Linked DNA regions of Homo sapiens: region 2 is linked to region 1. Evidence: fine-mapped expression QTL. A gene starts in region 1. The other region holds a variant in brackets. All regions are shown on one strand. Distances are between the middles of the regions.

Region 1 (5,528 bases):
TACTGTATGAACCTTGAACTACCACTATTTCAAATGTGGTACTTTTCTTCATGAAATTAGAAAATTTCATAATTTTCTTTATGAAAATTCCTGCCACTCAAATCTTCCCACACGCCTATTGTCCGGATGCCATATAGACATCCTGGGGGCTTTAGAAGGACTAGTACTAACCAATTTCTGGTCTTTAGGAATATGAAAGCGACCTTCCTTGCTCCCATCAGTCCAGTTGACACCAGATAGCAAGCTCATCCAAGGAAGAGAATATACACTATCAGGGCTGCTCTAGAAAACTCCGTAGGGTCAATTTGTGGCTAACAAAACAAGTGGGCTATTAGGCCATATTAAGAATAGTCTAATATCCAGCATGAAGTAAATGATAATCCTTTACTCTGTGGTCTTATTGGATCCAAGGGTTAAGAGGGAGGCATGATTGCTGTCTTCAACTAACTGAAGAACTATTATTAAGAAAAAGCAAATTTGTTCCAGATAGTCCCAAAGAACCAACGAATATAAGTTACTGGGAAACAGACTTTGGCTTATGATGGGGAATACTTTCTGACAATCAGAGTTGCTCCATGACACAAAGAGCCACCTAATGCACTCTCTGTCACTGCAGGGAGTTCAACTAGAAATCAGTCAACAAATTGGATGCTTAGGATAAATTCAAGAACTGAGTAGAGAAATAAAGCTTAATGAATGACCTTTTGGGCTCCTTCCAGTTCCAAGGTTTTAGTATTCTAAAATTTTCGGCACAGAACAACTCCAAATGCTCAGGAAATAAGAATGAGGTCTGTTTTTAAAAGGTGCAGTTTGGAGCATGTTGGGTGGATGAGGCTATAAAAAGTGAAGTACGATTTTCAAGGAAAGGAAGCTGACCAATCAAAGTCTTTTGGGCAGCCCCTCCAGAAATCCAGGTGAAGCCCGGCTCCAGGCTGAGTTGCTGTTACTCTACACGAAAGCCAGGCCGCTACTTTCCAAAAAACCTTGCCAAGCCACACTGTACCTATTGTATCTACACTTGCCTAACAGACAAAGGTGCAAAATTCTCCCCAAGAAGGCAGTAGTGCTTCATGGTTAAGACCACGGATTCTGGAACCAGGTTGCCAGTTTAATTTCCAACTGAGACATGTAATTGCTCTGTAATCTTGGATAAGTTACTTAACCTCTCTGTGCCTCAATTTTGTGAGTAAACCAAAGATAATAATAGTGTCTGTTATTCAATGCACTATTCTGCTACAGTAATTTAATGAAGTAATACACACCAAACACTCAGCCCAGAATCCAAAATATACTACATACTCGATAATTTTAGCAATTAGTATTAGGGATGTCAGAATTACTACCACAGGCACAGCAGCGTCACTCACTTAGAAAGCTCCCATCAAACAATTGGATCCCTTCCCCTACCAGTTCTGAAGGGCTATACTACAAGAGCCTCAATCAGTCTTTGCAGAGCTCCAGACAACCAGAACTTGCTGACTCTCAATAAGCCAAACTACTCACGTTAGTAATCCTACCTCATCACCCTGCTTTCCATAAATCCAACAGCCACCCTTCCCCCAGTCCTCTTGCCCATGCCACCCGCAGCCACAGCCACAGCCACAGTCAGAGGAGCAACAAACTGGGAGGCCAGTTGCAGACAAACCATCAGGTGTTTCCTCCCTTCCAAGGACACAGCTGGACTTAACATGATGCCTATGAGTGAGATGGGGTGGGGTATCTCAATCTCTGATCTAGGATGTCAGCTCAATTATCTGGAATTGAGGGTGGGCAGGCAATGGAGCTTCTCGCCGGGAAACAAGGCAAACCTCCCAAGTTTGTGGAGGAAGTCAGGCCCAACCCCACAGTGAGCCCCTCAAAGGAAGGGGGGAGGGCTCAATCTGCTTTAAAGGAAGCAGTTATTTACAACTTTCTACTCACTTGCATGTGGGGGAGGTAATGGGGAGATGGGGAAAGAGGCTGCAAGGTACCCTCCTTCTTTCTTATTTCCAGCAGTGAGAAGCAGCTGCGGAGAAAGAGTTAAAGAAGGGAGAAAGCTCCAGCCATTACTACATCCCTGGTGCCTAGAGCTGTCTGGGGGGTCATGACAGTGCTGTCTGCTTTGGCTAGGGGCCACTCCGTGGCTTTCTGCAGCAGCTGCTGGGGCCCCCCAAGCAATTTGCAAGGTCAGTGCTGACCTGCTTCCAAAGAGGAACAAAACAATTCACTGACAATGAAGCAAATCACGCATATACCACATCGCAACCCCCCTTCCTCAAATCGGGTTTTACCCCAGTGTCTCCCTGCTCAGATGCCGCCTCTGGGCTTCCACCAGCCCCACTGGGGAACCCAGGATAGCATCACAGCTGCAGAGCATGCCTCGCCTCCCGGCCAACCCAAGGAGACTCTCAGTACGGGGGAGAGATGCTATCGCTAAAGGAGACCTGAGCTTGGGGGAGGGGGAAGAAGGAACATCAATGTTTCTTACCGAGCTCTACAGTCTGAGCGGAAAGGAGAGAAGGATGAATGAACTGAAACAAGTTGGAGGTTGAGCCCTGACAGAGCTCGGCTTCTGGCTTCTTCTTCTCTCTCTGGGTCTCTCTCCTGGTCCCTCTCTCGGTCTGTCTCTCTGGTTTGCTCGCTAGCTTGCGCGCGCTCACGCTCTCTCGCTCTCTCTCTCTCTCTCTCTCTCTCTCTCTCTCTCTCTCAATCTGCCTCCCTCCCTCTCTGTCAGTTTCTCCCTCCCCTCCTCCCCTCCCCTTCTCCCCTCCCCCTTTGCTGGCTTTAGGTTCACCACTGGTGCTTAGCACGCGGCTGTGCTGGGGCTCTGAATACAGTACTGCAAGGCTTTAGATGTGGTTGTTTTACGAAATACTAAAGTAGTATTTTATTCCTTAAGGCATCCAACAGAGAAATAGAGGGAAGCCCAGAGAGAAAGGGAGGAGCAGAGGCAGCAAAGGGAAGAGAAAGAGAGCAAAAGGGTATGAGCGAATAGGAGGATAAAGGAAGTATGGGTTACTGTAGCTGATGTGTGATGCTTACTTGCTGCTCCGAGACTGAAGAGTGAGCTTCCTCCTTTTTCCCTCTGTCTCCCTTATATCCTTATGGGCGTGCCTTCTAACCCAGGCTGCAAATAAAGGTTTGACAATCCTGTCTGTTCAGATTCCATCTCTGGGGACAATAATGAGCTAGAAAAATGTACATCAAAGGGGTTGTCATTCATACTCCACTAAGAAGAAAGAGTTCCGCCACATTGATCCCCTGTTGACCTAACTTCCACCCCCACCCTCAACCAAGTAGAAGTGCAGACCCAATTCAAAACTATCAGTTCTAGCTTCCCTGTAGGTAAGACAGACAAGCAGCAGAACCACAATGCTTTCTTTTCAAAAATTCCAAAGGGAATATAGATGTATGTAATTGTGTGAGCCTATACATGAGTTGCACAAGGACTAAGGTGGGGAGAAGGATAATTATTGACTCAAAGTATAAAAGAACTATATTCCCATTGGGTCAAAAGAAAAAAAGCAACCTAGGCAAAGCACAGTAACAATGCAGCATAGAGTGGAAAAAGACCTAGGCTAAAAATAAAATAAAGGAACTTGAGTTTGAGTTCTGCCTCTGAAAATTGCTGTGTTGCTTTCAACGAGTTCTTCAATCTGGCCCTCAATATCCTCAGTGACCAAATGAATGGTAATGGAAATAGATGATCTTAAAAGACCCTTCCAGAACTAACAGTCTAGGAATCTAAAGACAGGAAAATTCCAGGTAAAGGAGAAGTTGGCCCTTAGAAAATAAAAACTAAACTGCCACATTTCAAAAGTTCTCCAAAGGTGAGTCCCCAAATGCGACTCCAAATCACATTGATTCAACATTCCATCTTTTGTGTTTCAGGGATAATACCAATATAAGCACGTGAATAAAGAGCTGTTCCTATCAAAGAATTCAGCATCTGCTTACATATAATGATTAGTATAAAAGTTTTCTTAGTCAAACTCTTCATATTGTGATTTCTAGTCCTGTTAGAAAAATTCAGAGGGCATCTAATTGAAAGTGAGTTATATAGTGTGTTTAAGTATACTAGTGTCAATATACATACAGTGACTGGGACATAATAGGCATTTACAATGTTGCCCATAGTGTGCCATTTCTCTTTAAACTACCATCCTGTTGGTTTTTTTCCCCCAAATTTCTAATGCTCTCTACTCCTGCCAAATGAAGTACATGTGCTACACTCCTATACATCTTCAAAAGCATGTGTCCATACATTGAGTAGAAGATAGATAGGTACTCGTAAGCTTAGAGTCACTGAGCTAAAGGGACCCATAAAGATAACCATGTCATTGTACAGAAAAAGAAACTAGACTAAATAGAAAATATAATTCACACAAGGTCATAGTGAGTCAGTGGCAGAATCAAGGCCAGTACTCAGATTGCTGACTGCAGGTACAGTATTTTTCTCTACAAAATTAACATGTAACTTGCACATAAAGCAAGTGTGTATGTGAGCATAAAGCTATAAATACTTTTTCCTGCATAGGTACCCATTTTCATGTGTAGATTTGTTTGCATAAATGTCCATTGGATTTAATAGATTAGTATACTGGCAAAAAGAAATATTAAGGTTGCTGTATTAGTTTTCTAGGGCTGCCATAACAAATTACCATAAATTCAGTAGCTTAAAACAACAGAAATTTATTGTCTCACAGTTCTGAAGGTCAGAAGTCTAAAATCGAGATGCTGGCAGGGTCAAACTACTCCAAAAGTTCTAGAGAATGATTTCTTGTCTCTTCCAGCTTCTGGTGGTTTCCAGTGTTCCTTGGCTTATCACTGAATCTCTGCCTCGGTCTTCAAATGGTCTTCTCCTCTGATTTCTGTGTGCCCAAATCTCCCTCTTTTTTCTTATAAAGACACCAGTCATTGGATTTAAGGCCCAACCTAAATCCGGAATGATTTCATCTCAAGATCTTTAACTACTTCCTTTTGCAAATACCATACCATTGAAATGAGGTCACACCCTGAGGTTATAGACGAACATGAATTTTGGGGGACACTATTCAGTCTACTACAATTGAAAACTTTTCATCTAATAAAGATACCAAACAAACAAATAAACCATCTGGGTGCCACCATTTATTTTAAAGAAAAGATATTTTAATATAAATAAGTTGGATTAAGACACTCTCTGAACAAAAAAACTCTTCTCTGAATCATACAATTATACCTGTATGAAAACTTCACAGCATTTTCATAATTTTCCCACTTGACTGCAAACCAAAAACAAACAAACAACAACAACAACAAAAAAAACAGAATCCTTTATTAGGAAAACTTCTGGCAATGGTGAAGAAGCTTCTATCAGACCAACCCTGATGCAGATAACAATAATAAACAGTGGACCAAATATATAATAAAACAATTTAAATGCACAGGAAAGCAACCCATAAACAGGCAAAAATTGAAAGGGAATTAATAATTGAAAGGAGGGAACAATACTAAGTGAGTTTTTCCTTTTCTGGAAATTTTTGTCTGATGGCAGCCCCCAGGCCAAA
Region 2 (5,000 bases), 210 kb before region 1:
AGTATTCTCTGATGGTAGTTTGTATTTCTGTGGGATCAGTGGTGATATCCCCTTTATCATTTTTTATTGTGTCTATTTGATTCTTCTCTCTTTTTTTCTTCATTAGCCTTGCTAGTGGTCTATCAATTTTGTTGATCCTTTCAAAAAACCAGCTCCTGGATTCATTGATTTTTTGAAGGGTTTCTTGTGTCTCTATTTCCTTCAGTTCTGCTCTGATTTTAGTTATTTCTTGCCTTCTGCTAGCTGTTGAATGTGTTTGCTCTTGCTTTTCTAGTTCTTTTAATTGTGATGTTAGGGTGTCAATTTTGGATCTTTCCTGCTTTCTCTTGTGGGCATTTAGTGCTATAAATTTCCCTCTACACACTGCTTTGAATGCGTCCCAGAGATTCTGGTATGTTGTGTCTTTGTTCTCGTTGGTTTCAAAGAACATCTTTATTTCTGCCTTCATTTCGTTATGTACCCAGTAGTCATTCAGGAGCAGGTTGTTCAGTTTCCATGTAGTTGAGAGGCTTTGAGTGAGATTCTTAATACTGAGTTCTAGTTTGATTGCACTGTGGTCTGAGAGATAGTTTGTTATCATTTCTGTTCTTTTACATTTGCTGAGGAGAGCTTTTCTTCCAACTATGTGGTCAATTTTGGAATAGGTGTGGTGTGGTGCTGAAAAAAATGTATATTCTGTTGATTTGGGGTGGAGAGTTCTGTAGATGTCTATTAGGTCCACTTGGTGCAGAGCTGAGTTCAATTCCTGGGTATCCTTGTTGACTTTCTGTCTCGTTGATCTGTCTAATGTTGACAGTGGGGTGTTAAAGTCTCCCATTATTATTGTGTGGGAGTCTAAGTCTCTTTGTAGGTCACTCAGGACTTGCTTTATGAATCTGGGTGCTCCTGTATTGGGTGCATATATATTTAGGATAGTTAGCTCTTCTTGTTGAATTGATCCCTTTACCATTATGTAATGGCCTTCTTTGTCTCTTTTGATCTTTGTTGGTTTCAAGTCTGTTTTATCAGAGACGAGGATTGCAACCCCTGCCTTTTTTTGTTTTCCATTAGCTTGGTAGATCTTCCTCCATCCTTTTATTTTGAGCCTATGTGTGTCTCTGCACGTGAGATGGGTTTGCTGAATACAGCACACTGATGGGTCTTGACTCTTTATCCAATTTGCCAGTCTGTGTCTTTTAATTGGAGAATTTAGTCCATTTACATTTAAAGTTAATATTGTTATGTGTGAATTTGATCCTGTCATTATGATGTTAGCTGGTGATTTTGCTCGTTAGTTGATGCAGTTTCTTCCTAGTCTCGATGGTCTTTACATTTTGGCATGATTTTGCAGCAGCTGGTACCGGTTGTTCCTTTCCATGTTTAGCGCTTCCTTCAGGAGCACTTTTAGGGCAGGCCTGGTGGTGACAAAATCTCTCAGCATTGGCTTGTCTGTGAAGTATTTTATTTCTCCTTCACTTATGAAGCTTAGTTTGGCTGGATATGAAATTCTGGTTTGAAAATTCTTTTCTTTAAGAACGTTGAATATTGGCCCCCACTCTCTTCTGGCTTGTAGGGTTTCTGCTGAGAGATCCGCTGTTAGTCTGATGGGCTTCCCTTTGAGGGTAACCCGACCTTTCTCTCTGGCTGCCCTTAACATTTTTTCCTTCATTTCAACTTTGGTGAATCTGACAATTATGTGTCTTGGAGTTGCTCTTCTCGAGGAGTATCTTTGTGGTGTTCTCTGTATTTCCTGAATCTGAACGTTGGCCTGCCTTGCTAGATTGGGGAAGTTCTCCTGGATAATATCCTGCAGAGTGTTTTCCAACTTGGTTCCATTCTCCCCATCACTTTCAGGTACATCAATCAGACGTAGATTTGGTCTTTTCACATAGTCCCATATTTCTTGGAGGCTTTGCTCATATCTTTTTATTCTTTTTTCTCTAAACTTCCCTTCTCGCTTCATTTCATTCATTTCATCTTCCATTACTGATACCCTTTCTTCCAGTTGATCGCATCGGCTCCTGAGGCTTCTGCATTCTTCACGTAGTTCTCGAGCCTTGGTTTTCAGCTCCATCAGCTCCTTTAAGTACTTCTCTGTATTGGTTATTCTAGTTATACATTCTTCTAAATTTTTTTCAAAGTTTTCAACTTCTTTGCCTTTGGTTTGAATGTCCTCCCGTAGCTCAGAGTAATTTGATCGTCTGAAGCCTTCTTCTCTCAGCTCGTCAAAGTCATTCTCCATCCAGCTTTGTTCCGTTGCTGGTGAGGAACTGCGTTCCTTTGGAGGAGGAGAAGAGGCGCTCTGCGTTTTAGAGTTTCCAGTTTTTCTGTTCTGTTTTTTCCCCATCTTTGTGGTTTTATCTACTTTTGGTCTTTGATGATGGTGATGTACAGATGGGTTTTCGGTGTGGATGTCCTTTCTGTTTGTTAGTTTTCCTTCTAACAGACAGGACCCTCAGCTGCAGGTCTGTTGGAATACCCTGCAGTGTGAGGTGTCAGTGTGCCCCTGCTGGGGGGTGCCTCCCAGTTAGGCTGCTCAGGGGTCAGGGGTCAGGGGTCAGGGACCCACTTGAGGAGGCAGTCTGCCGGTTCTCAGATCTCCAGCTGCGTGCTGGGAGAACCACTGCTCTCTTCAAAGCTGTCAGACAGGGACACTTAAGTCTGCAGAGGTTACTGCTGTCTTTTTGTTTCTCTGTGCCCTGCCCCCAGAGGTGGAGCCTACAGAGGCAGGCAGGCCTCCTTGAGCTGTGGTGGGCTCCACCCAGTTCGAGCTTCCCGGCTGCTTTGTTTACCTAAGCAAGCCTGGGCAATGGCGGGCGCCCCTCCCCCAGCCTCGCTGCTGCTTTGCA[G/A]TTTGATCTCAGACTGCTGTGCTAGCAATCAGCGAGATTCCGTGGGCGTAGGACCCTCTGAGCCAGGTGTGGGATATAGTCTCGTGGTGCGCCGTTTCTTAAGCCGGTCTGAAAAGCGCAATATTCGGGTGGGAGTGACCCGATTTTCCAGGTGCGTCCGTCACCCCTTTCTTGGACTCAGAAAGGGAACTCCCTGACCCCTTGCTCTTCCCAAGTGAGGCAATGCCTCGCCCTGCTTGGGCTCGCACACGGTGCGCGCACCCACTGGCCTGCACCCACTGTCTGGCACTCCCTAGTTAGATAAACCCGGTACCTCAGATGGAAATGCAGAAATCACCCGTCTTCTGCGTCGCTCACGCTGGGAGCTGTAGACCGGAGCTGTTCCTATTCGGCCATCTTGGCTCCTCCTATTTGATTTCTATAGTACTCAAAACAGCATGGTACTAACAAAAAAACAAACACATAGACCAATGGAACAGAATAGAGAGCCCAGAAATAGATCTGCACATTTACAGTCAATTGGTTTTCATAAAAGATGCCAAGGACACACTATGGGGGAAAGAACAGTCTCTTCAATAAATGGTGTTGGGAAAACAGGATATCCACATACAGAAGAATGAAATTGGACCCCATTTACACCATACTCAAAAGTCAACTCAATATATTTTGAGTTGAAACTATAAAACTAGTAGAAGAAAACAGAGAGAGAAAGCTCAACAGCACTGGCCTGGGCAATGATATTTTTTGCAAATGACCCCAAAAGCATAGGCAACAAAAGCAGAAATAGCCAAATGGCATTACATCAACCTAAAAAGCTTCTGCACATCCAAGGAAACAGTTAACACAGTGAAGAGATAACCTATGGAACGGGAGAAAATATTGCATACTATATATCAAATAAAGGGTTAATATTCAAAATACATAAGGAACTCAAACAACAATAGCAAGAAAACAAATAGCCCAATTTTTAATATAGGCAAAGGATCTGAATAAATGTTTGTCTTAGATGTATGAAAAGAGGCTCAACTTCATAAATAATCAGAGAAATTCAAATCAAAACCACAATCAGATATTACCTCACACCTGTTAGGATGGCTACTATCAAAAAGATAAAAGATAGGTGTTGGCGAGAATGTGGAGAAAAGAGAACTCTTTCATACGGCCATTATAAAAAACAGTATGGAGGTTCCTCAAAAATTAAAAATAGAAATACCATATAACCCAGCAATCCCACTACTGTGTGTACATGCATCCAAAGGAAATGAAATCAGTATGTTGAAGAAATATCTGCATTTTCATGTTTATTTCAGCATTATTCACAATAGCCAAGATACGGAATCAATTTAAGCATTCATTGGTGGATAAATGGATAAAAAGATGTGGTATATATACACAATAAAATACTACCTGGCCTTAGAAGAAAAGGAAATCCTGCCACTTGCGACAACATGGAGGACATTATCTTAAGCAAAATAAGCCACACTCAGAAAGACAAATACTCTACAATCTCATTTATATGTGGAGTGTATAAAAGTTGGACTCATAGAAAGAGAGTAGAATGGTGGCCAGGAAGTGGGAGGATTGAGGAGATGTTGGTCAAAGAATATAAAATTTCAGTTACACAGGAAAAATAAATTCAAGAGATCTATTGTACAACATGGTGAGTATAGTTAATAACAGTGTTTTATATATTTAAAAATCGCTGAGAGCAGAATTTACGTGTTCTCAGCACAAAAATTGAGATGTGAGGTAATGCATATGAAAATTAGCTTGATTTAGCTATTCCCCAATGCATAAATATATCAAGACATTCTGTTGTACACCATAAATACATATTATTTTTATTTATTTATTATAAACAGAGCATGGATTCCAAAGCCAGACTGCCAGATTTAAAACCCAGGTCCACCATGAACCCAGCTTGTAGTAGTAGCTATGTGTAAGTTACTTCAGTTCTCTGTGTCTTGTTAGCTAACACCTTGCAGATGCTAATTGAAGCCCTAAGACTAGATGATACTACAAAAGGAGTGATGTATCTAGGGAAGACAAGAAGTCTAACGACTGAGATTCAGCATACTGGGTTCATGTCTTTCCACTGACTCTCCACACATCTCAGGCAGAAGGTATATGTATCAGAATCTTGAAGGAGGGAGGGGAAATGAAGCAAGCAGT

What was found.
Region 2: its variant is fine-mapped to the expression of GABRA3 in nasal epithelium (TOPMed, PIP 0.99).

The regions. Positions count from the first base shown.
Region 1 is chrX:152,448,679-152,454,206 of GRCh38, forward strand. It overlaps GABRA3 (gamma-aminobutyric acid type A receptor subunit alpha3), which reads right to left and starts at 2,637. Exons shown (of 10, transcript NM_000808.4): 1 at 2,468-2,637.
Region 2 is chrX:152,238,793-152,243,792 of GRCh38, forward strand. The region is part of intron 5 of GABRA3 (gamma-aminobutyric acid type A receptor subunit alpha3); the gene reads right to left. Among named protein-coding and RNA genes, the nearest start is that of MAGEA10, 100 kb to the left of the region's middle. The variant G/A (reference allele first, on the strand shown) is at 2,829.